Linked DNA regions of Homo sapiens. The protein of the gene in region 1 binds, or shares a complex with, the protein of each later gene. Links are inferred from orthologs where the notes say so. Each region holds a gene or a part of one and is shown in the gene's direction. Other genes may lie near its edges.

Region 1 (16,210 bases):
CCACCTTGCCTTCCCCTCCCTGATGAGGCTTCACTTCTGGGTGATGCTGCATCCTATTTTGAGGTTTTCCTATAGAATTGTTCAAGTGAGATTCCTCCTGTGAGATTCTCAGAAAATGTCTTGGAGGAAAGAATGTTTCTGAAAGGAGCCTGAGAAATCTCTTCCCCTTCTAGAGACGCTTGCTCTGCCGGGAGCTAGAAAGGAACGGATCTCCATGCTCTGGACCTCATTAGCGAACCTTACCTTGGAGGCAGCTGAGAGCCCTCCCGAGGGGTCCTGATCCTGGGCACCAGCTCGCTCTGTGATCTACCTAAGCCCTTCAATCCCCCGACTCTGCAATGTGAAATCCAAATGCTCCCGGTGTCCTTGTAGCTCTGTCACCCTGGATTCTTGTGGCAAAGAGAGATGGATCTCAGTGGGAGGCTGGTTTTGGATGGAGGGCCACAGGGACTCATGGTCTTGGTGGTGGTTACAGATTTCTTGAGAAATGTCATTCTTTGGCCGGGCACAGTGGCTCACGCCTGTAATCCAGCACTCTGGGAGGCTGAGGCAGGAAGATCACTTAAGGGCAGGAGTGCGAGACCAGCCTGCATAACATAGGGAAACCCGGTTTCTATGAAAAATTAAAAAATTAGCTGGGTGTGGTGGTGCGCACCTGTAGTTCCAGCTACTTGGAGGCTGACGTGGGAAGATCACGTGAGCCCAAGAGGTTGAGGCTGCAGTGAGCAGAGATTGCGCCGCCACTACACTCCAGCCTGGGCAGCAGAGAGAGACCCTGTCTCAAAAAAAAAAAAAAAAAGAAAAAAGAAAAGAAATGTTCCCAGTATGTGATAAGGAGTGAACTAGTGAACTAGTATGAGCAACATGTCCCAGTTTGCCCAGGAGTTTTTCTAGTTGTGGCACTGAGAGTCCTGCATCCTGGGAATCCCTCAGTCAAACAGGGACTGTCGGTCACCCGTCGTCCGTAGCTCCCTGTGGTAGGAGGAGGGTGAGCCAGTCCGAGTTGGTGGTGTGTCCTCCCCTCGCCTCTGCCCTCTGCTCCTTACACCTTTCTCCCCAAACAAGGTGGGGAGATTCTCTGCCAGAGAAGGGAAGGTAGAAAAGACCTGTTTAAGATGAACAGAGAAGATGCAGTGAGCTGAGATCGTGCTGCTGCACTCCAGCCTCAGTGACATAGTGGGACCCTGTCTAAAAAAAAAAAAAAAGAGCTGGACACGGTGGCTCACACGCCTGTAATCCCAGCACTTTGGGAGGCCAAGGCAGGTGGATCACCTGAGGTCGGGAGTTCACGACCAGCCTGACTGAGATGGGGAAACCCTGTCTCTACTACAAATACAAAATTAGCCAGGCATGGTGACGCATGCCTGCAATCTCAGCTACTCAGGAGGCTGAGGCAGGAGAATTGCTTGAACCCAGGAGGCAGAGGTTGCGGTGAGCTGAGTTTGGTTTGCCCCATTGCACTCCAGCCTGGGCAACAAGGGTGAAACTCCTTCTTAAAAAAAAAAAAATTAACAGAGAAGGGGAAAGAGTAAGTGTCAGGATGTCGCAGAGCCTGCCCTCCTCACCCTCACGATTATCAGGGCTTGGCCTCCTGCTTGGCACGGGCACACAGACGCTCCTCAGGGCCTACTTGGGCCTCCTGGTCTTCGGGCTCCCATGTGGGGCCGCGCAGCAGGAAGTCACATAGTGGTGTCCAACCTTTCCTCGGGTGCAATGCTCTTGTGGGCATTCACAGGTAGGGTGCCCAGGTGTGTGCCTGCTCATGTGCTCCCCCAACTAGCACCTTTCCCTGCTGCCGTGCTGCTGGGCCCACCCACTCACGAACTGTAACCGGAACTTCAGCAAAACACCCACGGAACTCGAGCTATGCAAATAGGTGCACACACACGGAGGGATCCAGGGAAGAGAGCCAGGAAGTGACACAGGCAGGCAGAGGATTCCTGGAGGGATCTGAAGGAGCATGTGTACAGGGAGTCAAGGACTGGCACGATGGCCTTTTGCTGTCCGGGGGCAGTGGCGTCTGTGCACACTGCACACTCACCTCTCCCAGCCTCCTTACCTATGCTCATGCCCGGGCCCCACAGGCCTTGGCATCGGTTTGGGGACAGGCCTGGAACATTAAGAGACATTTCCCACCCTCTCCCTGTAGGAACCTCCCAGGGTGGCCAGACCTGTGTGAGTACCAGGAGCCAGGTCTCTGGCACAGCTCCCCAGGAGAATGGGCAGGCCTGGGCGTGCTGAGGGAGCAGGCGTTGGGGGCTCTTACACAATCCCAGCCAGGCTCGCAAGGCGGGAGGGTAGAAAGGCTCCTGGCAGCTCCCCAGGCCCTTATGCCTGGATAAGGAAACCACAGTCTGAAACTCCTGGGTTTCTGAAGGGCTGGAAGGCGGGATTTTTTGAGACCTGCTCCACTCCACCTGCCTCCCAGACTCTGTCATGCCTTTGAGGCCAGAGGGGCTGCCAAGCATGTCGGGCACCAAATCACAGGCTTCCAGAAACTAGAGAGGCCAGTGCCCTCATTTCCCACTGAATACGGAAAGAACTTGCTGAAGACATTGTTCCTTTGTCCAGAGTCCTACAAGCTCTGTAAAGCCAACCCACTTAGGTACAGATAGCAGCTGGAAAATGGGGTGCAGTGGTTTCCCAAATGTGTCGGACACTATTTTAAGCACTTTCTGAATATTAACTTATTCAATTCTCACAATAATCCTGCAAAGTAGGAACTATTATTGTCTTCTCTTTTTTATTTGTTTTTATTATTTTTTTAATATGAAGTCTCACTCTGTTGTCCAAGCTGGAGTGCAGTGGCGCTATATCAACTCACTACAACCTCCACCTCCCGGGTTCAAGTGATTCTCCTGCCTCAGCCTCCTGAGTAGCTGGGACTACAGGCACGCGCCACCATGCCTGGCTAATTTTTGTATTTTTAGTAGAGATGGGGTTTCACTATGTTGGCCATGCTGTTCTCTAACTCCTGACCTCGTGATCAGTCTGCCTCGGCCTCCCAAAGTGCTGAGATTATAGGCGTGAGCCACCATGCCCGGCCTCTCTTTTTTATTTTTAATTTTTATTTTTATTTTTTATTTTTTGAGAAGAAGTTTCACTCTTGTCACCCAGGCTGGAGTGCAGTGGTGCCATCTTGGCTCACTGCAACCTCCGCCTGCCGAGTTCAAGCGATTCTCCTGCCTCAGCCTCCCGAGTAGCTGGGATTACAGGTGCCCACCACCGCGCCCAGCTAATTTTTGTATTTTTAGTAGAGACGGGGTTTCACCACATTGGCCAGGGTGGTCTCGAACTCCTGACCTCAGGTGATTGCCCGCCTTGGCCTCCCAAAGTGCGGGGATTACAGGTGTGAGCCATCACACCCAGCTTATTTTTAAATTTATTATTATTTTTTATTTTTCTCGAGACGGAGTCTTGCTCTGTTGCCCAGGCTGGAGTGCAATGGAGCAATCTTGGCTCTGCAACCTCCACCTCCTGGGTTCAAGTGATTCTCCTGCCTCAGCTTCCAGAATAGCTGGATTATAGGCGTGCACCACCATACCCAGCTAATTTTTTGTATTTTTAGTAGAGATGGGGTTTTACTATGTTGGCCAGGCTGGTCTTGAACTCCTGATCTCGTGATCCGCCCGCCTCAGCCTCCCAAAGTGCTGGGATTACAGGCGTGAGCCACAGCGCCTGGCCTATTTTTTATTTTTTAAGACAGAGTCTTGCTGTGTTGCCCAGGCTGGAGTACAGTGACACCATCATGGCTCACTGCAGCCTCAACCTCCTGGACTCAAACAATCCACTCACCTCAGCCTTCTGAGTAGCTGGGACTACAGGCACATGCCACCATGCCCGGCTAATTTTTAAAAAATTTTTAGAGTCGATGTTTCGTCATGTTGCCGAGACTGGTCTCCAACTCCGGAGCTCAAGCAATCCTCCTGCTTAGGCCTCCCAAAGTGCTGGGGATAGAGGTGTGAGCCACCACACCTGGCCGTCCTCTCTGTTTCTTAGAGGAGAGAAAGTAACTTGCCCAATTCACAAAGCTAGTGTATGTCAGGGCTGCCATTTGAACCCAGGCAGCTTAAAAATTCATTCTGCCTGATCTTTTGGGGATCAAGCAGATTTGTGAGATAACCAATTAGAAATATGTTGTAAATGGCTTTAGGAGCAGGCTTAGTTGCAAACTGAAGTGCCCACAGGGCCAGGCAGATGAAATCAATGTGTTACTCAGGCTGGGCGGGGAGAGGCCTGTGGGCCATGTGGACAGTGTGTAGACCACCCAGAGGTGTCCCTGTGAAAATTCCCCCAAAACAAGCCAGGCACAGTAGCAAGCATCTGTTGTCCCAGCTACTCAGGAGGCTGAGGTGCGAGGATAGCTTGAGCTCAGGAGTTGGAGTTCAGCTTGGGCAACATAGCAAGACCCCATCTCAAAACAAAACAAAACATGCCTGGAGGACATATTGGGTCCCTTGCTCACAGCAGCTCTAGCCGAAGCCCACTGTATCTCAGGCTGGGGTCAGGAAAGCAGGCTTACCAGGGCACACCAGCTTGTCTTGGGGGGTTTGAAGGGCAAGGTCACCAAAGTGCCTGACTTCCTCTGTAATAACAAAGGGCATGAGATGTATCAATGAGTGGAAGTGACAGAGGACAGGAAGAATAGTCTGTTCAGAAACAGCAAAAGAGGGCCGGTGTGGTGGCTCATGCCTGTAATCCCAGCACTTTGGGAGGCTGAGGCGGGCGGATCACTTGAGGTCAGGAGTTTGAGACCACCCTGGCCAACATGGTGAAACCCCGTCTCTACTAAAAATACAAAAATTAGCTGGGCATGGTAGCAGGTACCTGTAATCCTGGCTTCTCAGGAGGCTGAGGGAGGCAGGAGAATCACTTGAACCCACGAGGCGGAGGTTGCAGTGAGCCAAGATCATGCCAATGCACCCCAGCCTGGGCAACAGAGTGAAACTTCGTCTCAAAAAAAAAAAAGCCTGGCACGGTGGCTCACGCCTGTCATCCCAGCACTTTGGGAGGCCGAGGTGGGCGGATCATGAGGTCAGGAGTTTGAGACCAGCCTGGACAATATGGTGAAACCCCGTCTGTACTAAAAATACAAAAATAGTAAACCCCATCTGTACTAAAAATACAAAAATTGGCCAGGCATGGTGGTGCACGCCTGTAGTCCCAGCTACTCGGGAGGCTGAGGCAGAAGAATCCCTTGAACCCGGGAGGCGGAGGTTGTGGTGAGCTGAGATCACGCCACTGCACTCCAGCCTGGGCTGAACAGAGTGAGACTCTGTCTCAAAAAAAAAAAAAAAAAAAAGAAACAGCAAAAGAGGTAGGGAGCTACCTGTTGCTGAAGGAACACGGTTCTTCATAGCCTAAATAACTCCCCCACTATGAGCTGTCAGATACCACACTCCTGGGATGAGAGGGAGGTCCATGGGGGCAACTTCTGCCCCAGGGCTCATCTAAAAATGCAGATTCCTCTGTTTTAGGACTTAGCCTCGGCTCCATCATTGATCCAGTGGGTAACTCCAAGTCCCTTGCTATAATCTCTAGGTTTGCTTTTTTGATTTGTTAAAAGGAGGGTTATATCAGAAGTTGAACCTGTAAATGTGTTGATTTTCAGTTCGTTTTCACCTACATAGACATCAGTTTCATATGGTTCAACTCCATAACTGTCCTACCCACCTTGTACATGAAAATGAAGCATGAGTCAAAGGCTCACTGCCATGTACACAGCGGGCATTCAGTGAGTGTTTGGGAAATTTAAGTGGTGGTTCTGGAACCAGATGGGCATGAGCCTTCCTCACCCACTTCTAGCAAAGGCACCTGCATGGGAATAACGTCAGAAAACAGTTCTTTTTTTGTTTTTTTTTTTGAGATGGAGTCTCACTCTGTTGCCCAGGCTGGAGTGCAATGGCGTGATCTCAGCTCCTGCAACCTCTGCCTCCCGGATTCAAGCGATTCTCCTGTCTCAGCCTCCCGAGTAGCTGGGATTACAGGCGCACGCCACCAGGCCCGGCTAATTTTTGTATTTTTAGTAGAGACGGGGGTTTCACTATGTTGGTCAGGCTGGTCTCGAACTCCTGACCTCGTGATCCACTCACCTCGGCATCCACCCACCTCAGCCTCCCAAAGTGCTGGAATTACAAGCGTGAGCCACCGCGCCCGGCCAGGCAAAGCAGTTCTTAGAGGGAAATTCACATTCATCAGTTCCTTCTGGGTGTTTGACCTTCCCGCTCCCACAACAGCCTGAATCCAGAACTGTCAAGTCTGGTTTTCAGCTATGGACACAGTCCACTGCCCGAAGGCCACCATCCAGACGACGGGGAAGCCTTGATGGCCTTTCCGGAGCCACTGCCCGAAGGCCACCACCCAGACGAGGGGGAAGCCTCGATGCTTAGAGATGGTACAAGCCAGGCTCTCATTGCATCTGGGTTTCGTGGAAAAAACAATCCTCTCGAGGGTAACTGGAACTTAATGGATGCGCCGCAGGTGGAAGGCGCTCTGTCCCCCTGTTTACGATGACGCATAATCCCTCCAACTCTCTGAGAATGTGACACAAAGGAGGGGGTCACGGTGGCTGAGGTCAAGGAGCCCTTCCTCTGTGAAGGGCGGCCCCAGGTCTGCGCGGCGGTGAAGACAGACTGGCAGTGGGAGGGAGGGAACCCGACAAAGAGTTGAGACGCGTAGTCCTCGGGAACAGCACTGTGGAAGTCCCCCGGATTGAGGCGCGCCCGTCCAGTGGAGAATGCCACCTCCAGCCACTGGGGCGCCTGGGGGCAGGGCGGAGACACAGCGGGCGTCCCTTCGCCGCTGCATAGGAGGGCGACCGCTGGGCAGCGGGTGTTGGCGCGGTATCCCCGCCCTGCCCAGCATCTGCCCCACGTTTCTTCAGGCTAAACTACCGGGATCCCGGGCTTCTTCCTAAAGTAAAACTCGCTCCGGAAAGGCCAACAGTCCAGCGGCCAGACGGGCACCTGGGAACGCGGGCCTAACGCGTACTGGAGACGGAGTGGCGCCCGGCACTGCGCGCCTCCTCCCCGCCGGGAGACTGCGTGCTAAGCTCAGCAAAGCCCCGCTGTGGAGACGGAGCCATGTCGCCCATTACCTAATGAAACTGAGAAGGGAGACTCAGTCTCTCTTCTAGCCCCGAGCGCAAGCTCTGCTGGACTTGGCATCGTCCGCCCTCCACGATCCCACACTCCGGGTTTTCCCCATTCCCAGCTCGGCTGCAACCGAGAGACAGACGGAAGAAACTGCCAATGGAAGGACGCAAAGCGTCAACTTTGTGTTCGCCCGCCACTCTCGGCCAATGTGCGCTCGTGTCTCCGGAGTCCCGCCTTCCGTGTCGGGCGCCCCCTTTTGGCAGCACAGGGACGAACCCTACGTCTCGCCATCTTGTGTGTGGCACAGGTAAATTTCTGGACTATCTTTCCACCTATTCTGGTCCTTTTTCCCACACAACCGATTTCTTAGTTCGACAGCTAAGTGCGGTGGCGATAAGGCCAGCGTAGCCTGTTGTTCTCGGATCGCCCACGTGAGCTAGATCGCTACGTCACGCCACGCTTGCCGAGCCCGGCGCCATCTTGAGTGTGGCGTTTTGATGCTCCCCTTTCTCGGGGCTCCGCATGGTTCTCTAAATGGTCCCCCAAATTTCAGGTAGTCCCCAAAGATTAGCCCAACTGGCTCCAGAGACGATGATTTTTCCCGAGGAACTCTGTAATGTTCATGTGCCCATCGCAGTCCAGCAGTGGGGTGGGAGAAGGGTAGACTCGATGGCCCGGCAGGCCCCTGGAGGAGGCTGCCCTGAGGCTGTCGCGACGGCAGTGACCGCTCGGGACAGACCCTAACTAGAAACCTAGAATGAGGGGACCGCTATGCCGTGCGGGGCCCGCGGGCTGTCCCACTCGAGGGCTGGAGCCGGCATCGCGCATCGAGTCCGCTTGATACATGAATCCGTGTGTGCTTGGGACGGTGCCCGCTTGTCGACTGACTTGGCCGACGGACGCCGGACCTGATGGTGGGCAATCGAGGTCGCCTGCCCACAGGACTAGGGGTGCCCTGCCCTGGGAGGGCGCGAGGGCATGGCAGAGGGACGGGGCGGCCCAGGTGCCCGGGTCTCGGCCTCGTGACCTCGTTGCTCGTCGTGGGGCTGCCGTCCACTTGCACTGGGACAATCCTTGGTCCAAGGCGCCCAGGCGCGGGGGGCGGGCACCTCCGCGGGCACTGCGCTGGGCACCGCCCGGGGCGAGCGCGGCCCAGCACCCCGCCTTCCCCTCCCCCGCGCTGGCAGCCGTCGTGTGCCCGCCGCCCCCTCTTCCCTCCCCCTCCTTCCGAGCAGCCGCGGGGAGGGCGGGAGAGGGAGGGAAGGGGGTTGGGCGGGCAGCTTTGCCGCGCTTTGGCTTTCTGCGTCAGCAGCCCCAGCAAAACAGCTGCGGGAGCGCGCGTCCGGAACGCGCTCGCGCACCCCTCCCCCGCGCCCTCGGCCCTGCTGAGACCCGGCAAACTCCGGCCTTGAATGACAGTGCGATCGGCGACTGCGCAGCGCGGGACGCGCCGGGGCACTGCCGCTTTAAGCACGCTTGTCCATTGTTCGGAATCGAGCCAATGAGCGAGCGCCCGCTCCCTGCGCTCAGCCAATAGCGGCCGGGCATGGGAAGCCGAGCGCCGCCCACTAATCTATATTAAAGCTTCTGGCGCCGCGTGAGTCCCCCACTGGCTGCTCTGAAAAGCCATCTTTGCATTGTTCCTCATCCGCCTCCTTGCTCGCCGCAGCCGCCTCCGCCGCGCGCCTCCTCCGCCGCCGCGGACTCCGGCAGCTTTATCGCCAGAGTCCCTGAACTCTCGCTTTCTTTTTAATCCCCTGCATCGGATCACCGGCGTGCCCCACCATGTCAGACGCAGCCGTAGACACCAGCTCCGAAATCACCACCAAGGTGAGGCTGGACGCCGCCCGCCCCCTCGGGGTCCGCGCGCCGCCGCTCGGGCGGTGTTTGGCGCGCAGCAGCTGGACTGTCTCAAGCCCGCTGTTGCTCCCTCTCGCGGGGAAACGGCCCGCCCCCGGCGCGGTGCCCTCAGGCAGCCCACTCTTTGTGTGGTGCGGGGGAGGGGGCGGGAACCGCCGCGGGCAGACGTGATGCCCGTCGGGGAGTGGGCCGGGCGCCCTCGGGGGCCGAGGGCTAGGCGCGGAGGCCGGCTCACGGCCCTCGAAACTCGTCTGTGGCCGGTATGAGTGGCGGCGGGAGGAGAAGAGCCTGGCTGGGGGTCGTCGGCCCGCCGGGCGCACGGAAATAACTTTGAAACTCAAGCGCGTTGGGAATCGGAAGTGCTGGGGGGCGCGTGTTGGGGCGCGGGCCGGCCGCGGGAAGTGGCGGCGAGCGCCCGCCGGCCGCGCTGCTCTTTGTTCGGCGCCAGGCCGGCGGTTTCGCGCCCTGCAGCGGACCTGAGGTGGTTTGTCTAGACTAAGTCCCGATAAGGCGGATGGGGCGACGGGCTGGCTGGCCGCGACGTCGGCCGTCCCGGCGGAGGTGTGACGGGCTTATCCGCTTTGGGCGCTCTGGGAGGCGGGGGTGGGCGCCCTTCGAGGTGAGTGCGCCGGGAGCGGCCGCCCAGCTTCAGTCATGCACCCGCGGTGCCGGGCTTGGCTGAGGAGGCGAGAGCCCACGCGCCGCAGGGAGGAAAGAGAAAGTGAAGCGCGGCGCTGGGGCGACGATGGGCGCCCCCCGCGGCTGCCCGGGAGCACCGTGTGCGCCGCAGCTCGGGGCGACGCGGGCCAACACGGCGGCCGCGACAGGCCAATGGTAGGGTCGAACTGGGGGGGCGCCCGGGCCCCGTGGCGGGTTCACTGCCCTCGGCTATGAGGTCCTGCGCGGCTGGTGCGGCTCCGCTCCTGTTGTCGGCGCCGCCTCGGTCCCACTGCCCGCCCTGGGTAGCGTCTCCGCCCTTGGCGGGAGCGGGGCGCTCTCAGACTGACTGGCTCTTTCTTAATATTTCGGCCCTCGTCCGCGCCCGTCGTGCCCCTGCAGGGATTGGCGCGAGTCACCTTGGCGTCTCCTTAACCCTTGTGTCCCTGGCGTCATCTCTGACTCTCCCAGGGGCGACTTCTTGGCAGAGCGGAGCTCGGGGCCCGGATCTCCACAGGGGCTCTCAGTGACCCCTTCTGGACTCAGTCCGGGAATGAGTTTGTGGGGTGAGAACACCGTCCCCAGTGCGGGGCCTGGCTGTTCGATTTTCTCCGAAGCACCAAAAGGTGACTTCCCGCGAGGGCGATGAGTAGTAGCCCGAGAGGCGCATCCCCGACAGTCTCGGACCTACGCAGCCCGGTGGACTTTGGGGCGACCTCCCGTGGGACTTGGCCCGCCGAATGCAGACATTCGGGCCTGCCGGGGTGGCGGCAGTGGGGCGTCGAGTCGAGAGCCCGGCCGACCGACGCGCGACCCGCGCGCGTGCCACTGCAAGCTCTGCCTGCCGGCCGGGAGTCTCCAAGGCAAGGGACGCACTCGGCGGCCCCGGGCCACGTGCTCCCTGCGCGCGGTGCGTGCCGAGGCCCGCGCGCAAAGCCCGCCGGGCGGGGGATGCGCGCCTGCGCGCCGCGACCTCCCTGCCCCCACTGCTCCCCGGGGCTTCGGCCGCCAGGGGGCGAGAGCGGGCGGAGCCGGGGTCCGCGGAGCGGAGCGGGGCGGGCCGGACTGAGAGGGCCGACAGGTGGCCCGGAGCCGCTCGCCGGACAGCGGCCGAGGGGTTCCCGCAGGCCCGGACGCCGGACCTCTGTTGGTATTGGTGGCCGTGTCGTGTGGAAAAAGTTACCGGGCGCCCGGGGCCGCGCTGCCTTTTGGATCCCGGGCGGAGTCCCACCCCCGAGGTGCTGTCGGGATCCCTAGCCGCCGCGGGGAGGCCGGGAGTTGGTGGCTCCGGCGGCAGGCCCCGGCCTGGGGCACCGCCAAGCAGCGGTTTGCGGCCTCTAGGAACAGCGGTCGGATTTGGGGGGTCGGTGTGCTTTGGCTTTTTTAGATACCTGTCCTGGCCGGGGCGGTGCGGCCTCGCGGGCCTTCCAGGCTGGCGCGCCTGTGGGGCTCTCCCCGAGCGCAGGCCCCTCTCTCTTTGCCTTATTTATTTTTGGAACATAACCTGCCGCCTTTCTAGACGGCTCGAGGGGCGGGCTCTTTGCACTTGGAAGCAGGCTGATGGGCGTGAGTGTCCGGGGCTCGTCCACCCGGCCGGACGGGCTGGGGGCTGTGGCGCCACATGGCTCCTTTTTCCTGGGAAGCGCCAGGGGGCAGTGGGAACCGCCACCGGGGCCGCTGTAGCGGGCCTTAAAGGATGGGAAACCTTGATCACAGATGCCCCCCGCCGGCCTTCCTTCCACCAGACCAGTGGGAGAGGGACCGCAGGGGCATCAGGCCTTTCTCAACATGCGACTCTTAATTTGGGACGGACAGAACAGCCGTACAGACCAGTAGTTCTCAGCGCCTTTGCTTACCCTGGGTTGCTCAGAAGACTTACTGGTTACTGGTTCCTTCTTCCCTTTTGAAGGACTTAAAGGAGAAGAAGGAAGTTGTGGAAGAGGCAGAAAATGGAAGAGACGCCCCTGCTAACGGGAATGCTGTGAGTGTCTGCTTTGCTCCTGAGCCCTGGCAGCTACCGCCCCACAAAATTTTTCCTGTTCTACTTTAAACATACCTATATATGTGTGTGTATGTGTATATGTATAGCTTTGCACAGTGGCAGTATCGTAGCCAATGAGCTTTACCCGAGGCGCGATTATTGCTAGTTAAATATTTATAAAAACCTTTCGAGCAGCGCCTGAACAAGAATAGGTTCAGAGGAGACTCCGGTAGTCTGAGTTTGGGCTTGGCCCAGGGTGGGGAAAAGCCCTTGTCCTGGGGCAGTTAATGTGCAGGTTTCATGATGGAGCCTGGAGGGTGTTGACTGGAGAAGGGTCTCTGGGGTGGGCTTGGCTTGGCTGGGCTGTAGATGCAGCCGCCAGCCTCTGGTGGGAGGCCGGGCATCAGGAGCAACGCTCTGTCCAGCCTGGGGCCAGCTGGTAATGACATGGCCTGTTTTCTGTCGAGGAGAATGAGGAAAATGGGGAGCAGGAGGCTGACAATGAGGTAGACGAAGAAGAGGAAGAAGGTGGGGAGGAAGAGGAGGAGGAAGAAGAAGGTGATGGTGAGTAGCCTTGTCTATCTTCCCCTTTTCAGGTACTTTTTCCTGGCCTTGTCTGGCAGAAGGGGAAGGAAGGAATTGGGGCTCCTGGGAGTGGGACAATGGTACTTGGGGCCAGTGGACCACATGGCCCTGGGCACCCACCTGTAGAGTCAGGGAAGGTCTCCCTGACATGGAGTTGTGCCCATGCCCACTCACACTCACTCGCACACCTGAAAGTTTCTTTCGTGCAGCTCTGAAAGCCACTGATCTATTGGGCTGGCCTTTTGGGGTGCAGCTGCTTGGGCCTCTCTCCTCTGGAGAGTCCCACCTGTGTAGTGGGCGTGGGTGCCCTGATTGGGCCCAGTTGCAGGCAGTAGAGGCAGGGCAGGGACCTTGCAGTCCACTACATGTTCCTCGGGATTTCCCCAGGAGCCACAGTAGGAGGGAAGTGTGGTTTACCTGGCCTTTGATTCTCTCCAGGTGAGGAAGAGGATGGAGATGAAGATGAGGAAGCTGAGTCAGCTACGGGCAAGCGGGCAGCTGAAGATGATGAGGTGGGTTCTGGCTTGAGAAGAAGGGGGGTTTGGCATCTGGGTCTCCCCACCTGCCTTTAGCTGAGGTGCTCAAGCTGCGGAGGGACTGTTTCTGACTTTGTAGGTGGCCACTGTGTGGTCCTGAATCTTAAGAACAGGAAGGAAACAGGGCTGGGCTCAACTTCCCAGAGGCCTTGGGCTGTGGAGCTGGGGGTCCCTGGTTCTTGCTCTGCCAGCAGGAGCTGAGGCAGTGGGCTGGATAGGGCTCCTGGGGTTGGAGGGGCCTTTGACAGTCTTTCTCTGCTTAGGATGACGATGTCGATACCAAGAAGCAGAAGACCGACGAGGATGACTAGACAGCAAAAAAGGAAAAGTTAAACTAAAAAAAAAAAGGCCGCCGTGACCTATTCACCCTCCACTTCCCGTCTCAGAATCTAAACGTGGTCACCTTCGAGTAGAGAGGCCCGCCCGCCCACCGTGGGCAGTGCCACCCGCAGATGACACGCGCTCTCCACCACCCAACCCAAACCATGAGAATTTGCAACAGGGGAGGAAAAAAGAACCAAAACTTCCAAGGCCCTGCTTTTTTTCTTAAAAGTACTTTAAAAAGGAAATTTGTTTGTATTTTTTATTTACATTTTATATTTTTGTACATATTGTTAGGGTCAGCCATTTTTAATGATCTCGGATGACCAAACCAGCCTTCGGAGCGTTCTCTGTCCTACTTCTGACTTTACTTGTGGTGTGACCATGTTCATTATAATCTCAAAGGAGAAAAAAAACCTTGTAAAAAAAGCAAAAATGACAACAGAAAAACAATCTTATTCCGAGCATTCCAGTAACTTTTTTGTGTATGTACTTAGCTGTACTATAAGTAGTTGGTTTGTATGAGATGGTTAAAAAGGCCAAAGATAAAAGGTTTCTTTTTTTTTCCTTTTTTGTCTATGAAGTTGCTGTTTATTTTTTTTGGCCTGTTTGATGTATGTGTGAAACAATGTTGTCCAACAATAAACAGGAATTTTATTTTGCTGAGTTGTTCTAACAAAGCTGTCTCAAGCCTGGTTTTTCTGTTTCAGTTTCTTCAGACCTTCCAGGGCACAAGGATAGGAGGGGGAGGATCCTGGGGACAGTGGGTTGACATTTTGGGAGGCAGTTGGATGTGTCCTGTGATGGGCAGCAGAGTCTGGTGGGTGGGCAGGGACTGAGCTGCAGTTGGCTGGGGGGGCTGCTCACTGGGGCAGTCAGTGATTGCCCCAAGAAGCCTTAACTGGGGAGGAGGACTTCATCACTGGGTGCCACATGGGGACCCTGGTGCCCTGGGGGTGGGGGTTTGCAGTCCTAGACACTGGAAACGGGCCACACGGGACTGCCATTATGTGGAGCGCAGGGTGCTGGTGGTATAGGCCAAGAGGGAACTTGCCAAGCCTCCCAGGATGAGCGTCCAAGTGGTGGCTGCCTCTGCAGGCCTCACAGGTTTAGCTCCATGACGTGGCTCCCCCTGCTGGTGGCACGTGGTACCCCCCGGCCTCTTAGAATGCCGGGGTTTTGGTTTGGCACTGGTGCAGCCTGGCAGTCATCCAACCTTTGGTCTCCAGGTCCCTTAGGTTAGTTGGGCAGGCCCACCCTGCCCCTTGAACACAGTTGGAGAAGTTACTGTGCCGTTTGGATATTCATACACGGGCTGTGAGCAGTGGGTCAGGATAGCCAACTGGAGGAAGTGCCACCAGCTCGTGCCCTCAGAGGTGGAGGTAAGGATTAGAGCTCACCTAGAACCTTCTGGGATCCTCCAATGAGAGCTGCAGGGGCAGGGGCCGGTATAGGCACTGCTAGTGGGCCTGTTGCCCAGGTAGGACCTGAGGAAGCCATCCAGTGGTATCTGCAGGAAAACTCCCAGGAGCAGACTGAAGTGTCTGCAGAGGCCTGGCCTGGGTTAAGGGGAGATGCTGGGAAGGAGGGAAATGTGTGCATTGAAGAGAGCAAGAGAGACCAGTTCCCTCTACCTGCCCCTTGACACCGTGTCCACCCCATTCCATGCCCCCCCGACCTTTGTGTTTCACACCAGGCACCAGAGTTCTGGGGGGACCTTTCCCTTCTCTGGCTGGAGCTTAGTCACTCTCATGGGGCTGCTCAGGCCGCTTGTTCAGCATGTCCCCAGGCAGCTGCCACCAGGATCGGGGGCAGGTTGAGGCCTTGGTAGGAGGGACCCTCTGACCTGTATCTACCCCACACCCCCTGCACAGCCTGGGTATCTGCATCCTGGCTCATCCAGGGAAGAAAGGGAGGGTCTGGAGCCAAAACGCTGGCTCCTCTCTGTTCTGCCGCCCAAGGCGACTCAGTACTGCAGTGTTCCCAAGCTCGGCGCCCAGGAGGGTGTCTCTAAGGCAGGAGTGCAGGCGAAGGCCGTGAAGGAAGGCCACACAGGGCAGGTAGCGCTTGGAGCTGAGAGCAGATCTAACCCAGCTCCCTCAGGCTGCAGTCCTGCTCGGGACCACTACCGCAAGGCCCCTGAAAGGGGAGAAGCTGTGCCCTGGTCCGCACACAGACACGGCAGGCATGTTAGCATGAGGCAAGTAACTGAACCTTGTGGGCTTCAATCCCCTCCTCTGCAAAATGGGAACAATAGGATGAGGCATGAGCCAGGGCCCAGGGCTGCCTTGCTAGGGTCCCCCTGAGACACCCATATCAGCAGAGCTTACTGCCTCTGCTGTCTGAGCTGCCTCATCCCACCAAAGGTTTGGCCTGGAACAGCATTTGCTGGTTCTAGCAGAACACACTTACCCCTAGTCCTGAGCCTAGCACACAATTAACCACTGCCTGAGGATATACCTCAGGGCCCAGAGTCACCTTGATACCACTCCCAAAGTCCCCGAATGACCTCCCACTGGAGCCCAGGTTAAAAGATTATCAAGGAATGGGCGCCCCCTGGTGGACACAGAGGAACTGTAAAGCGTGCCGCTGAATTCTGTCCAGGAAAGACCCTTCAGTGGGCCCTGGTCCCAAGGTAGGCAACGCCAGTCACCCTCCACCTGACTCCCGCAACAAGACCTTTCTCCCTCTCTGTTGCTGGAACCCCAGTCAGATGTGACAGTCAGTGGTCATTTCCCAGACCTTCCTTCTGGGCAACTGATGCCCTCTCCCAAGGACTGAGTCCTTTACGTGGAACCAAAGCTGGAAGCAGGGGTCCACTCTTCCACGGTCTTGGGCTTCCCTGTGGCCACACACACCCTCACTGGACTCCACGCACCCTCACTGGACTCCATGCACCCTCACTGGACTCCATGCACCCTCACTGGACTCCATGCACCCTCACTCACTGGACTCCATACTGCCTCAGCAGACTCCACACTCTCTCACTGGACTCCCTGCTCCCTCACTCACTGGACTCCACGCACCCTCACTCACTGGACTCCACGCACCCTCACTGGACTCCACGCACCCTTACTCACTGGACTCCACACATCTTCACTGGACTCCACACATCCTCAGTGGACTCCACACATTCTCACTGGACTCTACAGACCCTCACTGGACTCCACGCTCCC
Region 2 (15,382 bases), on another chromosome or scaffold:
AAAAAAAAGACAAGGAAAACCTGAGGCCTGGGCACAGCGCCTCACACCTATAATCCCAGAACTTTGGGAGGCCAATGGAGTCAGGATCTCTTAAACCCAGGTGTTCAAGACCAGCCTGGGCAACATTGCGAGACCCCATCTCTACAGAAAAACAAACAAACAAACAAAAACTAAAAATTAGCCGGGTGTGGTGGCGCCTGTCTGTGGTCCCAGCTACTCAGGAGGCTGAGGTGGGAGGATCGCTTGAGGCCAGGAGCTCAAGGCTGCAGTGAGCCGCGATTGCGCCACTGCACTCCAGCCTGGGCGTGCAGATCAGAGCGAGACCTTGTCTCTAAAGGAAAAAAAAAAAGAAAGAAAGAAAGAAAAGAAAAGAAAAGAAAACCTAGCGAGGTAGATAATTTTCCCTAGATCCTGCGGCCGCCGGACCACGAGGCCGGCGCTGTGCGTTGTTAAAAGGAGAATAGCAGATGGTGGCGCGCAGCCCCGCGAGGAGACATCCAGCAACGAAATCGGGAGATGGAAGGGACAGTGAGAAGGGGGGCCTGGCTGTGCGCCCCCGCCCGATGCCCCACTCCTCGCCGACGGGCGCCGGGCACCTGCGGGAAGGGCGGGAGAATCGCCGCTCCTTTCCCGCCGCGCCCTTTCCGCCCTCTCCCCGCCTCCTTTTCGGGCGTCCCGAGGCCGCTCCCCAACCGACAACCAAGACCCCGCAGGCCACGCAGCCCTGGAGCCGAGGCCCCCCGACGGCGGAGGCGCCCGCGGGTCCCCTACAGCCAAGGTAAGGCAGGAATCTCCTGGACTGGGTCGCGGTCCCCCGGCTTCCCGGAAGCGCAGTGCGCGGGTGGCATCACTGTGCCCGGAGCCCCTGCGCGCCCCGGCCATCCCCACCCCGAGGGACCCCCTACGGAGGCGACCTGGGGGCTGAGGTGAGCGCTTGGGCAGCAGCGACGGGGAGGGGTGTCCACCCCACCCCTGGTGCGGGCCGGGGCGCGCAGGCCTGGAACTCGGGGTTCAGACTCCCCGCGACTCGGACCACGCGGCTAAGCGCGCTCAGGGTCGCGTGCCCCCGCCCCGCCGCCATGCTGGGCGCCGTGGTGGCCGCGCAGCTGGGCGACAGCAGGCGTGGGCGGGGGTGGGGAGCGGCCCCTCAGCGGTCCCTACCGCCTGAGGCCAGGGCCCGGGGACTTTTATTGTGACACGGCGGGCGCCCGGCTCTGCTTAGTCATGGTGACCTGCGCGCGCTCCGCGCCTCCCCCACGCGCAGCGATGGAGGCGCCGGGGCTCGGGCGGTGGAGGCGGAGCCGGAGCGCGGCCATGGCGGGGTGAGTGAGGCGGGATGTGCCCGGGCTGCGGGCATCGCGGGCCGCGAGCGCCCCTGCGGCCGTGCCCGGAGACCAGGAAAACGGGCGCCACGGCCCAGGGCGCCTCCGAGTTCCCCGCCAGGACTCGGAGGGCCAGGAGGGCGCGACCTGGGTGGATATTTTTGTTGGACGGCGCAACTCTTGGGGTGGCCCGGGAGCGGCGGAAACCGAGCGAGAGAACCAGGAGGCGCTGCGCAGAAGGAGGCCCGGGGGCTCCGAGGCGTTGAGGGGCTCGATCTGCGTTCTGGGGTTGGCAGCCGAGAGGCCGCGGTGGGGTCACTTCCTCGCCTCACTGGGCCTGGTGGAGGCTCAGGAGGGGCATGCGCAGTCGCCCACTTGCCGCTTTGTAGGGTGGGGGAAGTGCCCGGTGCCCAAGGGGCATTGTTGACCGATTGGCCAAAGACCAAGAGGCAAACCCAGGGCCTTGGCACCAGAGTGGGGGCCGAGTGGCACCCAGGGAGGGTGGAGGAGGCCGCTCTGGCAGGCACGGTGGCAGGGCAGTTAGCCAACCACCCGTTTATTGACCCCTGCGCAGTGCCAGGCCCCAGGCGAGAGGCACAGGAGAGGGTTGGCCCGACGCCGACCTACATAGGTCTCCCTGCCATTTGAGGCGCTGGGGCCGGGGACGAGAGACAGTCGATCAACAGACAAGCAAAGGAGGTCATTTCAGTTCCTGACAAGCGCAGTGATGACAATAAAACAGGGAAGAGGAGACTTTGAGTTGAGTCCCAGAAAGAGGGGAGTGAGAACTTGCAGATCCACTTGTGGGGAGCCACTTGGAGATCCCCCACTCCTTTTGAAACGTAACTCACGTCTGGGCACAGCAGCCTATGCCTGTAATCCCAGCATTTTGGGAGGTCGAGGAGGGGGATCACTTGAGGCCAGGAGGTTGAGACCACCCTGGCCAACATGGTGAAATCCCATCTCTACTAAAAATACAAAAAATTAGCCCATCGTGGTGGCTGGTGCCTGTAATCCCAGCTACTCAGGAGGCCGAAGTATGAGAATATCTTTTTTTTGTTTTATTTGAGATGGAGTCTTGTTCTGTCACCCAGGCTGGAATGCAGTGGTGCGATCTCGGCTCACTGCAAGCTCTGCTTCCTGGGTTCACGCCTTTCTCCCGCCTCAGCCTCCCATGTAGCTGGGACTACAGGCGCCCGCCGCCACACCCGGCTAATTTTTTTGTATTTTTAGTAGAGATGGGGTTTCACCATGTTAGCCAGGATGGTCTCGATCTTCTGACCTTGTGATCCGCCTGCCTCGGCCTCCCAAAGTGCTGGGATTACAGGCGTGAGCCACCACGCCCGGTCGAGAATATCTTGAACTCGGGAGGCAGAGGTTGCAGTGAGCCAAGATCGCACCACTGTACTCCAGCCTGGGCAACAGAGCGAGACTCTGTCTCGAAAAACAAAACACAAAACACATAACTCATCTCCTGGCCCTCCAGGATCCAGGGGTTTCCATGAAACCCTTCCTTAAGTCCTTAGCTCTCACTGCACTCCTTCCCAATTCTCCAGATTGACTGTCTCAGCCTCTGAGCCACTGCACTTACTGTTTCCTCTGCCTGGAAAACTACTCCCCAGCCTCCCACTTTATAATAATTTTCATCCTTGTCTCAGCTCCAACCTCACCTTCTCAAAGAGGCTTGGTCTGCCAGATTTTAAAAAACTGCACCCCGGGTCAGGCATGGTGGCTTACGCCTGTAATCCCAGCACTTCGGGATGCCAAGGCGGGCGGCTCACTTGAGGTCAGGAGTTTGAGACCAGCCTGGCCAACATGGCGAAACCCAGTCTCTGCTAAAAATACAAAAACTAGCCGGGTGTGGTGGCGGACGCCTGTAGTCCCAGCTACTCGGGAGGCTGAGGCAGGAGGATCGCTTGAACCCGGGAGGCGGAGGTTGCAGTGAGCCAAGATCGAGCCATTGCACTCCAGCCTGGGTGACAGAGAGACTCCATCTGAAAAAAAAAAAAAAAAAAGCAAACAAACTGCACCCGATTCTCACGTTGTCACAATGCTGTTGTAATTTTCTTCATGAAGCTGTTTTTCCAGGTCTTGCTTATTTTAGTTTATGATTGCTCCTCCCTGCAGTTGTCAGCTCTGGCAGGGTAGGATTTTTGTATTTTGCTCACTGCTGTGTCTTCAGCACCCAGATCAGTGCCTGGCATACAGTAGGTGCCCAGTAAATGGTGAGGCAAATGAAGGAATGAGCTCAACATGCTCTAGAAAGGGAAAGGCCGCCAGATTGCTGAAGCAGAGTGATCAAAGGGAAGAGGTGGCAGGGGCTAATTGCGTAGGGCTTTGCAGGCTGTTGAGGAGTTCAGTTTTACTAGGTACTGTGGGAGGCATTGGAGGATCCAGAGCAGGGGAGAGACATGACTTCATGTATGTTTTAAGATGGGCTCTTGGGCCAATCAGGTTGATCAGGTCGGGGAAGTTTGCAAGTTTGCAAATGGATTCTGCTTCACCTACTTTGCAGGAAAACTGACCTAGGAATTGCTTTATCTTGCAAAACGAGGCCCGGCAGGTGCTGGCCCAGTCCCAACCCCTGCCCTCTGCCCTGTGCTCTCTCCCCTCCAGGTCCCTGAGTGCCAGAGGTGGTGGTGTTGCTTATCTTCTGGAACCCCATGCAGCCAGATCCCAGGCCTAGCGGGGCTGGGGCCTGCTGCCGATTCCTGCCCCTGCAGTCACAGTGCCCTGAGGGGGCAGGGGACGCGGTGATGTACGCCTCCACTGAGTGCAAGGCGGAGGTGACGCCCTCCCAGCATGGCAACCGCACCTTCAGCTACACCCTGGAGGATCATACCAAGCAGGCCTTTGGCATCATGAACGAGCTGCGGCTCAGCCAGCAGCTGTGTGACGTCACACTGCAGGTCAAGTACCAGGATGCACCGGCCGCCCAGTTCATGGCCCACAAGGTGGTGCTGGCCTCATCCAGCCCTGTCTTCAAGGCCATGTTCACCAACGGGCTGCGGGAGCAGGGCATGGAGGTGGTGTCCATTGAGGGTATCCACCCCAAGGTCATGGAGCGCCTCATTGAATTCGCCTACACGGCCTCCATCTCCATGGGCGAGAAGTGTGTCCTCCACGTCATGAACGGTGCTGTCATGTACCAGATCGACAGCGTTGTCCGTGCCTGCAGTGACTTCCTGGTGCAGCAGCTGGACCCCAGCAATGCCATCGGCATCGCCAACTTCGCTGAGCAGATTGGCTGTGTGGAGTTGCACCAGCGTGCCCGGGAGTACATCTACATGCATTTTGGGGAGGTGAGCGGGGAAGTGGGGCTGGGGGCAGTGTCAGGAGAAGGACCAGGGATGGACGAGTGCTCATCACTGTCTCCCCTTGAGATGTCAAGGCAGGAAACTGGAGAAAAAGGAGGTTCTGGGCTGGGTATGGTGGTGTAGTCTCCACAGTTTGAGGGGCTGAGGCGGGGGGATTGCTTCAGGCCAAGAGTTCAAGACCAGCCCAGGCAACATAATGACACCCTGTCTCTAAACAAACAAACACACAAACAAAAAACAACTGGGGCCGGGCGTGGTGGCTCATGCCTGTAATCCCAACACTTTGGGAGGCCGAGGCAGGTGGATCACCTGAGGTAAGGAGTTCAAGACCAGCCTGGCCCACATAGCTAAAACCCATCTCTACTAAAAATATAAAAATTAGCCAGGCCTGGTGGCGGGCGCCTGTAGTCCCAGCTGCTCAGGAGGCTGAGGCAGGAGAATCGCTTGAACCAAGAGGTGGAGGTTGCAGTGAGTGGAGATCGAGCCACTGCACTCCAGCTTGCGCAACAGAGCAAGACTCAGTTTCAAAAAAAAAAAAAATTAAAAAACAACTGGGGTTCTGAGTTCCTTGTCTACACATGTGGGGAGACTGGTGAACAGCTGGGGAAGGTGAGGTCTTCATATGTCTCTGGGCTCCCTGGTTTCTCTGGGGTCAAAGTGGGGCAGAGTGCAGTGAACAGCAGCCAAATCCTAGGGTAGCCCAGCCTTTCGGGCAGTCAGCAAATGTTTATTGGACACCCGTGACAGGCTGCAAGCTGTAAGTCTGAACCTTAGTCATGTTTTCTTTGGTCCACACAATGTCCTTATACTGTTTTTGGTTTCGTTTTCACATTTCTCAGTGAAGGAAATTATCTATAGAAATTGACAAGAGAGGGCAGGGCCCAGTGGCTCACGCCTGTAATCCCAGCACTTTGGGAGGCTGAGGCGGGTGGCTCACCTGAGGTCAGGAGTTTGAGACCAGCCTGACCAATATGGTGAAACCCCATCTCTAATAAAAATACAAAAAAAGAAAACTAGCCGGGTGTAGTGGCATGTGACTATAGTCCCTGCTACTCGAGAGGCTGAGACAGGAGAATCGCTTGAACCGGGGAGGTGGAGGTTGCAGTGAGCCGAGATCGCACCATTGCACTCCAGCCTGGGCGACAGAGCAAGACTCTGTCTCAAAAAAAAAAAAAAAAAAGCCTGGGCGCGGTGGCTCATGCCTATAATCCCAGCACTTTGGAAGGCCAAGGTGGGCAGATCACCTGCGGTCGGGAGTTCAAGACCAGCCTGACCAACATGGAGAAACCACGTCTCTATTAAAAATGCAAAATTAGCCTGGCATGGTGGCTCATGCTTGTAATCCCAGCTACTCAGGAGGCTGAGGCAGGAGAATCGCTTGAACCCGGGAGGCGGAGGTTGCAGTGAGCTGAGATTGCGCCATTGCACTCCAGCCTGGGCAATAAGAGCGAAACTCTGTCTCAAAAAAAAAAGAAAAAGTTTTTGAAGAGATGAGGTCTTGCTCTGTCCCCAGGCTGGAATACAGTGGTGCCATCATAGCTCACTGTAGCCTCCAACTCTTGGGCTCAAGGAGGCCTCCTATCTCAGCCTCCTGAGTAGCTGGGACTATAGGTATGCAGCACCACGCATGGCTAATTTTTTAGTTTTTAAATTTTTTTGTAGAGACAGGGTCTTGCTATGTTGCTGAGACTGGTCTCGAACCTCCTGGCTTTGAACAATCCTCTGGCTTTGGCCTCCCGTAGTGTTGGGATTACAGGTATGAAGCACCATACCAACACCAGGCCAAGAAGTGTTTATTGAGCACTTGCTGTGGGCCAGCCCCTGTTCTAAGTGATTTATGTCCTTTGCATCATTGACTGTTCCCAACTGTCCTATGAGGCAGTACTACCCTTCAGCCTAGGCAAGCAGGGCAGTGCCCCAGGCCCTAAGCCTTCGGGAGTCCCATGTCTTGGTGTTCCTTCCTGGAAATTTTCTAAGTCCCCCACTGGCTGGTACCAGCTGGGATGGATGTTACACTGATCTCTATTTCTCTCCTTCAGGGATAGATTCTTTCCTACCCTCTATGTTACATGTGGGGTTGATCAGACGCCCCAGGGTTCTCTGGCGTTAGTCCTAGGGCCTGCAGCTTCTAGGAAAGTGGTCTATACAGTAGGAGAAACATATACAGTGTTTCTTTCTTGTGTTTGTATGAACATGGGGTACTAGATTAAAACTGATTACATAGACGAGTGCCTGACAACTTTTTTTTTTTTTTTTGAGACGGAGTCTCACTCTGTCACCCAGGCTGGCATGCAGTGGCACTGTATCGGCTCACTGCAACCTCCATCTCCTGGGTTCAAGCAATTCTCCTGCCTCAGCCTCCCAAGTAGCTGGGATTACAGGTGCCTACCACTATGCCCAGCTAATTTTTAAAAAATATTTTTAGTACAGATGGGGTTTCACCATGTTGGCCAGGCTGGTCTCGAACCCCTGAGCTCAGGTGATCTGCCTGCCTTGGCCTCCCTAACTGTGCTGGGATTACAGGCATGAGACACTGCGCCCACGCCCGCCCCCCACCGCCCAGTCCTTTTTTGTTTTTGAGACTGAGTCTGGCTCTATCGCCCAGGCTGAAGTGCAGTGGCAAGATTTCGGCTCACTGCAAGCCTCCATGTCCTGGGTTCAAGCGATTCTCATGCCTCAGCCTCCGAAGTAGCTGGGATTACAGGGGTGCACCACCACGCTGGCTAATTTTTGTATTTTTAGTAGAGACAGGGTTTCACCATGTTGGCCAGGCTGGTCTGGAACTCCTTACCTCACGTGATCCGCCCACCTCAGCCTCCCAAAGTGTTGGGATTACAGGCTTGAGCCACCACGCCAAGCCCCCTTTTTTTTTTTTTTGGGGGTGGGGGACAGAGTCTCACTCTGTCATCAGGCTGGAGTATAGTGGCATGATCTCGGCTCACTGCAACCTCCGCCTCTCGGGTTCAAGTGATTCTCATTCCTCAGCCTCCCAAGTAGCTGGGATTATAGGCATGTGTCACCATGCCCAGATAATTTTTGTATTTTTTGTAGAGATGGGGTTTCACCATGTTGGTCAGGCTGGTCTTGAACTCCTGACCTCAAGTGATCCGCCCGACTTGGCATCCCAAAGTGCTGGGATTACGTGTGTGAGCCACCGCACCTGGCCTTTTTTTTTTTTTTTTCTTTTTTTAGAGACAGGGTCTCACTCTGTCACCCAGGCTGGACTTCAGTGGCACGATCTCTGCTTATCACAAACTCCAGCTCCTGGGCTCAAGTGATCCTCCCACCTCAGTCTCCTGAGTAGCTGAGACTACAGGCGTGAGCTACCATGCTTGGCTAATTTTTATATCTTTTCTTGGTAGAGATGAGGTCTCGCTATGTTGCCCAGGCTGGTCTTAAACTCCTGGGCTCAAGCAATCTTCCCGCCTTGGTCTCCCAAAGTACCAGGATTACAGGCGTGAGCCACCACACCTGGCTACAAGAAATATTTATCCAGGGCTCTGTATACCCTAGAAGTAGCCTTACTTTGAGGTGGCCATTAATATAATCCCATTTTACAGAGGAGGAAAACCAAGACATGGAGCATTTCAGAGATTTGCCCAAGTTACACACCTACGAAGTGGTCGGATCAAAATTCCAACTCATGCTGGTTTCTTCGGAGCTTCCACTTTTTTTTTTTTTGGAGATGGAGTCTCACTCTGTTGCTCAGGCTGGAGTACAGTGGCACAATCTCAGCTCACTGCAATCTCTGCCTCCTGGATTCAAGCGATTTTCCTGCCTCAGCCTCCTCAGTAACTGGGATTACAGGTGCCCACCACCACAGCTGGCTAATTTTTTTGTTTTTAGTAGAGACGGGGTTTCACCGTGTTGGCCAGGCTGGTCTCGGACTTCTGACCTCAGGTGATCCGCCTGCTTTGGCCTCCCAAAGTGCTGGGATTACAGGTGGGAACCACTGTGCTGGCCCAGAGCTGTCACTTGTTTTTTTCCACAACATTCTATTGTGATTGCTTATTTTTTCCTTTTTTAGTCTATTTGCCATTTTAGAAAATGATTTCATTTTAAAAAACAAGATGGGTGAGTTGGCTCGTGCGTATAATCTCAGTGCTTTGGGAGGCTGAGGCAGGAGAATCACATGAGCCCAGGAATTTGAGGTTACAGTGGCACCTCTGCACTCCACCATAGGTGACAGAGCAAGACCCTGTCTCTTAAAAAATAAACTCAGACATCCCATCTCTACTAAAAATACAAAAATTAGCCGGGTGTGGTTGTGCGTGCCTGTAGTCCCAGCTACTCAGGAGGCTGAGGCTGAGGCAGAAGAATCATTTGAACCCGGAGACAGAGGTTGCAGTGAGCCGAGATCACGCCACTGTATCCAGCCTGACGACAGAGTGAGACTCTGTCTCAAAAAAAAAAAAGAAACAAAAGAGGCCGGGCGCGTTGGCTCACGCCTGTAATCCCAGCACTTTGGGAGGCTGAGGCAGGCGGATCACGAGGTCAGGAGATCGAGACCATCCTAGCTAACATGGTGAAACCCCGTCTCTACTAAAAATACAAAAAATTAGCTGGATATGGTGGTGGGCACCTGTAGTCCCAGCTACTCGGAGGCTGAGGCAGGAGAATCGCATGAACCTGGATGGCAGAGCTTGCAGTGAGGCAAGATCGTGCCACTGCACTCCAGCCTGGGCGACAGAGCGAGACTCCATCTCAAAAAAAAAAAAAAAAGAAACAAACAGAAAACTCAGAGGCCAGGCGCGGTGGCTCAGGCCTGTAATCCCAGCACTTTGGGAGGCCGAGGCAGGCAGATCACCTGAGGTCAGGAGTTCAAGACCAGCCTGGTTAACACGGTGAAATCCCGTCTCTACTAAAAATACAAAAACAAAAATTAGCCGGGTGTGGTGGTGGGCGCCTGTAGTCCCAGCTACTCGGGAGGCTGAGGCAGGAGAATGGCGTGAACCCGGGAGGTGGAGCTTGCAGTGAGCCGAGATTGCACCCCTGCACTCCAGCCTGGGCGACAGAGCGAGACTCCATCTCAAAAAAAAAAAAAAAAAAAAAGCCAAGCCAGGTATGGTGATGCACACCTGTAATCCTCAGGAGGCTGAAGTAGGAGAATCATTTGAGCTCAAGAGTTTAAGACCAACGGCCGGACACGGTGGCTCATGCCTGTAATCCCAGCACTTTGGAAGGCAAGGGGGTGGGCCACTTGAGGTCAGGAGTTCCAGACCAACCTGGCCAACATGGTGAAACCCCGTCTCTACCATAAAAATATGAAAATTAGCTGTGCGTGGTGGCACACACCTGTAGTCCCAGCGACTCAGGAGGCTGAGGTGGGAAGATCGTTTGAGCCCAGGAGTTCAAGGCTACAGTGAGCTATGATTGTGCCACTGCACTACAGCCTAGGTGACAGAGCAAAACTGTGTCTCAAAAGCAAAAACAGGCCAGGTCCGGTGGCTCACGCCTGTAATCCTAGCACTTAGGGAGGCTGAGATGGGCAGATCACCTAAGGTCAAGAGTTCAAGACTGGCCAGGCGAGGTGGCTCACGCTTGTAATCCCAGCACTTTGGGAGGCCGAGGCGGGCGGATCACGAGGTCAGGAGATCAAGATCATCCTGGCTAACACAGTCACCCCGTCTCTACTAAAAATACAAAAAATATTAGCCAGGCACGGTGGTGGGCCCCTGTAGTCCCAGCTACTCGGGAGGCTGAGGCAGGAGAATGGCGTGAACCCGGGAGGTGGAGCTTGCAGTGAGCCGAGATAGCGCCACTGCAGTCCGGCCTGGGCAAAAGAGCGAGACTCCATCTCAAAAAAAAAAAAAAAAAAAAAAGAGTTTGAGACCAGCCTGGCCAACATGAAGAAATGCCATCTCTACTAAAAATACATAGTGAAACTCCGTCTCTACTAAAAATAAATACAAAAAAATGGCCGGGCGCGGTGGCTCACGCCTGTAATCCCAGCACTTTGGGAGGCTAAGGCGGGTGGATCACAAGGTCAGGAGATCGAGACCATCCTGGCTAACACGGTGAAACCCCATCTCTACTAAAAAAATACAAAAAAACTTAGCTGGGCGTGGTCGCGGGCGCCTGTAGTCCCAGCTAATCGGGAGGCTGAGGCAGGAGAATGGCGTGAACCCAGGAGGCGGAGGTTGCAGCAAGCGGAGATCGCTCCACTGCACTCCAGCCTGGGCGACAGAGCAAGACTGTCTCCAAAAAAAAAAAAAAAATTAGCTGCTCTGGAGGCACACTCCTGTAATCCTAGCTACTTGGGAGGCTGAGGCAGGAGAATCACTTGAACCTGGGTGGCGGAGGTTGCAGTGAAGCAAGATCACACCACTGCACTCCAGCTTGGGCAACAGAGTAAGAATCCATATCAAAATAAAATAAAATAAAATAAAAATTAACGGGGCATGGTGGTAGGTGCCTGTAATGTCAGCTACTTGAGAGGCTGAGGCAGGAGAATTGCTTGAACCTGGGAGGCAGAGGTTGCAGTGAGCCTAGATCATGCCACTGCACTCCAGCCTGGGTGACAGAGTGAGACTCTGTCTCAAAAACCAAAGCCAAATGATACCCCAGGGTACACGATCTACTGAGTCTTTGCCCATTTTCCTGAGTCCTGATGACATACTTGGCACATAGTATTAACTCTTTTTTTTTTTTCTTTGAGACAGAGTCTTGCTCTGTCGCCCAGGCTGGAGTGCAGTGGCGCAATATCGGCTCACTGCAACCTCCGCCTCCCGCCTCCCGGGTTCAAGCGATTCTTCTGCTTCAGCCTCCCGAGTAGCTGGGACTAGAGGCGTGTGCCACCACACCCGGGTAATTTTTGTATTTTTAGTAGAGATGGGGTTTCACCATATTGGCCAGGCTTGTCTCTCAACTCCTGACCTCGTGATCCGCCAGCCTCGGCCTCCCAAAGTGCTGGCATTACAGGCGTGAGCCACCGCGCCCGGCAGGATTAACTCATTTAGTCATCACAATGTACGCGGTTCCTATTATTTGAATCCCCATTTAGCAGATAAGGAAGCTGAGACTGTCAGCGGCAGTGATAAGTTACTTGTCCCGGTCCTGCTTGGTGAGGTGTGGGGGTGACTGGAGAGTCAGCCCGTCCCACTGTCGCCCTCTGCAGGTGGCCAAGCAAGAGGAGTTCTTCAACCTGTCCCACTGCCAACTGGTGACCCTCATCAGCCGGGACGACCTGAACGTGCGCTGCGAGTCCGAGGTCTTCCACGCCTGCATCAACTGGGTCAAGTACGACTGCGAACAGCGACGGTTCTACGTCCAGGCGCTGCTGCGGGCCGTGCGCTGCCACTCGTTGACGCCGAACTTCCTGCAGATGCAGCTGCAGAAGTGCGAGATCCTGCAGTCCGACTCCCGCTGCAAGGACTACCTGGTCAAGATCTTCGAGGAGCTCACCCTGCACAAGCCCACGCAGGTGATGCCCTGCCGGGCGCCCAAGGTGGGCCGCCTGATCTACACCGCGGGCGGCTACTTCCGACAGTCGCTCAGCTACCTGGAGGCTTACAACCCCAGTGACGGCACCTGGCTCCGGTTGGCGGACCTGCAGGTGCCGCGGAGCGGCCTGGCCGGCTGCGTGGTGGGCGGGCTGTTGTACGCCGTGGGCGGCAGGAACAACTCGCCCGACGGCAACACCGACTCCAGCGCCCTGGACTGTTACAACCCCATGACCAATCAGTGGTCGCCCTGCGCCCCCATGAGCGTGCCCCGTAACCGCATCGGGGTGGGGGTCATCGATGGCCACATCTATGCCGTCGGCGGCTCCCACGGCTGCATCCACCACAACAGTGTGGAGAGGTGAGTGGCAGGGCCTGGGGGTGGGCTCGGAGGGTCCTGCTCCTGGCAAGTCCCAAGACACTGAGATCCGGGTATTCTTCCTGAGGCTGTTTCCTCTTCCTGTCTTCAGGGAGTGGAGGCCTCAGGATGAAGCTAAGCTCCTTGGAGAGTTCTAGTCAGTGACCTTTGATTCTGTGCCTGGGGCTGGGAAATGCTTAGGGGACTGTCACAAACCCATATGGTTCCTTTGTGCGGAGTTGGAAAATGTTCCATCAGTTTGAAATTGTTGGGCTAGGCACTGTGGCCCATACCTATAATCAGGGACTTTGGGAGGCTGAGGTGGGAGGATTGCTTGAGTCCAGGAGACTAGCCTGGGCAATAGAGTAAGACCCTGTCTCTCTTGCTCTGTTGCCCAGGCTGGAGTGCATCTTGGGTCACTGCAACCTCGCCTCCCAGGTTCAAGTGATTCTCCTGCCTCAGACCCTGGGGTAGCTGGGACTACAAGTACCCACCACCACGCCTGGTTAATTTTTGTATTTTTTGTAGAGATGGGGTTTCACCATGTTGGCCAGGCTGGTCTTGAACTCCTGTCCTCAAGGGATTCTCCCACCTCAACCTCCCAAAGTGCTGCGATTACAGGTGTGAGCCACTGTGCCGGACCTAAAGGACTCTTTGAGCATCAAAGAGTGATGCTGAATGTGTGATTTCTCCTTTCTGAGATGTTATCTTGTTATCTGTGAAGTGGGGGATCTGGCTGAGCCACTAGGGGTTTATCAGATGTGTTTTTGAACTTGAGCAATTGATGGCTAGGAGGCTCAGTTTTGTCATTTGGAAAATGGAGTTGCTGATACCTCAATCCTTGGAGAACAACTGCAAGCACTAGAGTTCGAGTGGAGGTGGGCACGGTGGTGTGCACCTGTAGTCCCAGCTACTCAGGAGGCTGAGCCAGGAGGGTTCCTTGAGCCCAAGAGTTGATAGCTGCAGGCTGGGTGTGGTGGCTCATGCCTATAATCCCAGCCCTTTGGAAAGCTGAGGCAGGCAGATCACTTGAGGTCAGGTGTTTGAGACCAGCCTGGCCAACATGGCGAAACCCAATTTCTACTAAAAATACAAAAATTAGCCGGGCGTGGTGGTGGGTGCCTGTTATCCCAGCTACTTGTGAGGCTGAGGCTGAATAACTGCTTGAACCCAGGAGGTGGAGGTTGCAGTGAGCCATGCTCTCACCATTGCACTCCATCTCAAAAAAAAAAAAAAAAAAAAAGTTTGAAGCTTCAGTGATTGCACCACTGCACTCCAGCCTGGACAACGGAGCAAGACCCTGTCTCTTTTTTTCTTTTTTTTTTTTTGAGATGGAGTCTCGCTCTGTTGCCCAGGTTGGAGTGCAGTGGCATGATCTCAGCTCGCTGCAACCTCCGCCTCCCAGGTTCAAGTGATTATCTCGCCTCAGCCTCCCGAGTAGCTGGGATTACAGGCATCTGCCATCACACCCAGCTAATTTTTGTACTTTTAGTAGAGACAGGTTTTTACCATGTTGGCCAGGCTGGTCTCAAACTCCTGAGCTCAGGTGATCCGCCCTCCTCGGCCTCCCAAAGTGCTGGGATTACAGGCATGAGCCATCGCGCCGGATGAACCTGTCTCTTTAAGGGGGAAAAAAAAAAGGAAAAAAAAGAGTATCTGGCCCTTAAGTATTCCACGAAGGTCAGCTATAATGGCCATTGTCCCCATTTTTCTTACGCCCTTGCAGGTATGAGCCAGAGCGGGATGAGTGGCACTTGGTGGCCCCAATGCTGACACGAAGGATCGGGGTGGGCGTGGCTGTCCTCAATCGTCTCCTTTATGCCGTGGGGGGCTTTGACGGGACAAACCGCCTTAATTCAGCTGAGTGTTACTACCCAGAGAGGAACGAGTGGCGAATGATCACAGCAATGAACACCATCCGAAGCGGGGCAGGTGGGTGGGGACGGTAGGGAGGGGAGCACCCAGGAACACCCCCTACCATCCTGGGGTGAAACTGAGCCAGGCCTGGGAGAGACCCCCTGTTGCAACCCTCATGCTGGGGTAACCACAGAAGCCCTGGATTCTGATAGAGTCCAAGCTTCTCTCTCTCCCCGCTTCATTTCTGAGGGTGAGAAGGGAGAGGAGAGAGGAAAGGTCTCCCTCAAGGAGGTGATGGCTGGGGTTCCCAAAGCCAGACCCCCAGAGTCACCTTCTCTGCATGGTGCCCTTTAGGCGTCTGCGTCCTGCACAACTGTATCTATGCTGCTGGGGGCTATGATGGTCAGGACCAGCTGAACAGCGTGGAGCGCTACGATGTGGAAACAGAGACGTGGACTTTCGTAGCCCCCATGAAGCACCGGCGAAGTGCCCTGGGGATCACTGTCCACCAGGGGAGAATCTACGTCCTTGGTGAGGCCCTGGGGGCGGGGAAGAGTCCTGACTAGCCCATCTTTTGTGGACTGCTTTTGCTTTTGCTTTCCTTTTTTTTTTTTTTTTTTTTTTTTTTAGAAACAAGGTCTCGCTCTGTTGCCCAGCTGGAGTGCAGTGGTGTGATCACAGCTCGCTGGAGCCTCAACAGCCTGGGCTCCAGCCATCCTCCTGCCTCAGCCTCCCAAGTAGCAGGGACCACAGGCGCGCACCACCACACCCGGCTAATGTTTTTTTTCTTTTGAGATGGTGTCTCACAGTGTTGCCCAGGCTGGAGTGCAATGGCATGATCTCAGCTCACTGCAACCTCCACCTCCTGGGTTCAAGCGATTCTCCTGTCTCAGCCTCCTGAGTAGCTGCGACTACAGGCACATGCCACCACACCAGGCTAATTTTTTGTATTTTAGTAGAGACAGGGTTTCACCATGTTGGCCAGGATGGTCTCGAACTCCTGACCTCGTGATCCACCTGCCTCGGCCTCCCAAAGTGCTAGGATTAGAGGCATGAGCCACCGCGCCCGGCCTGTTTTGTTTTTTG

The links.
Region 2: the proteins of PTMA (region 1) and KEAP1 are in contact, whole or in part, in a crystal structure (PDB 2Z32), measured with the Mus musculus proteins. The link is inferred for Homo sapiens from one-to-one orthologs. Residues at the interface, in NP_032998.1 of Mus musculus: Gln40, Asn41, Glu42, Glu43, Asn44, Gly45, Glu46, Gln47; in NP_001103775.1 of Mus musculus: Tyr334, Ser363, Arg380, Asn382, Arg415, Phe478, Arg483, Ser508, Gly509, Tyr525, Gln530, Ser555, Ala556, Tyr572, Gly574, Phe577, Ser602.

The regions. Positions count from the first base shown.
Region 1 is NC_000002.12:231,699,828-231,716,037, forward strand, and holds PTMA (prothymosin alpha), read left to right. Parts: upstream 1-8,697; 5' UTR 8,698-8,879; coding exon 8,880-8,924; intron 8,925-11,520; coding exon 11,521-11,592; intron 11,593-11,697; exon of another isoform or gene 11,698-11,781; intron 11,782-12,059; coding exon of another isoform or gene 12,060-12,062; coding exon 12,063-12,156; intron 12,157-12,615; coding exon 12,616-12,689; intron 12,690-12,976; coding exon 12,977-13,024; 3' UTR 13,025-13,724; downstream 13,725-16,210.
Region 2 is NC_000019.10:10,488,637-10,504,018, reverse strand, and holds the start of KEAP1 (kelch-like ECH-associated protein 1), read left to right. Parts: upstream 1-662; 5' UTR 663-778; intron 779-1,247; exon of another isoform or gene 1,248-1,322; intron 1,323-3,938; 5' UTR 3,939-3,985; coding exon 3,986-4,624; intron 4,625-11,756; coding exon 11,757-12,442; intron 12,443-14,165; coding exon 14,166-14,371; intron 14,372-14,650; coding exon 14,651-14,827; intron 14,828-15,382. UniProt on the Homo sapiens protein: Substrate-specific adapter of a BCR (BTB-CUL3-RBX1) E3 ubiquitin ligase complex that regulates the response to oxidative stress by targeting NFE2L2/NRF2 for ubiquitination.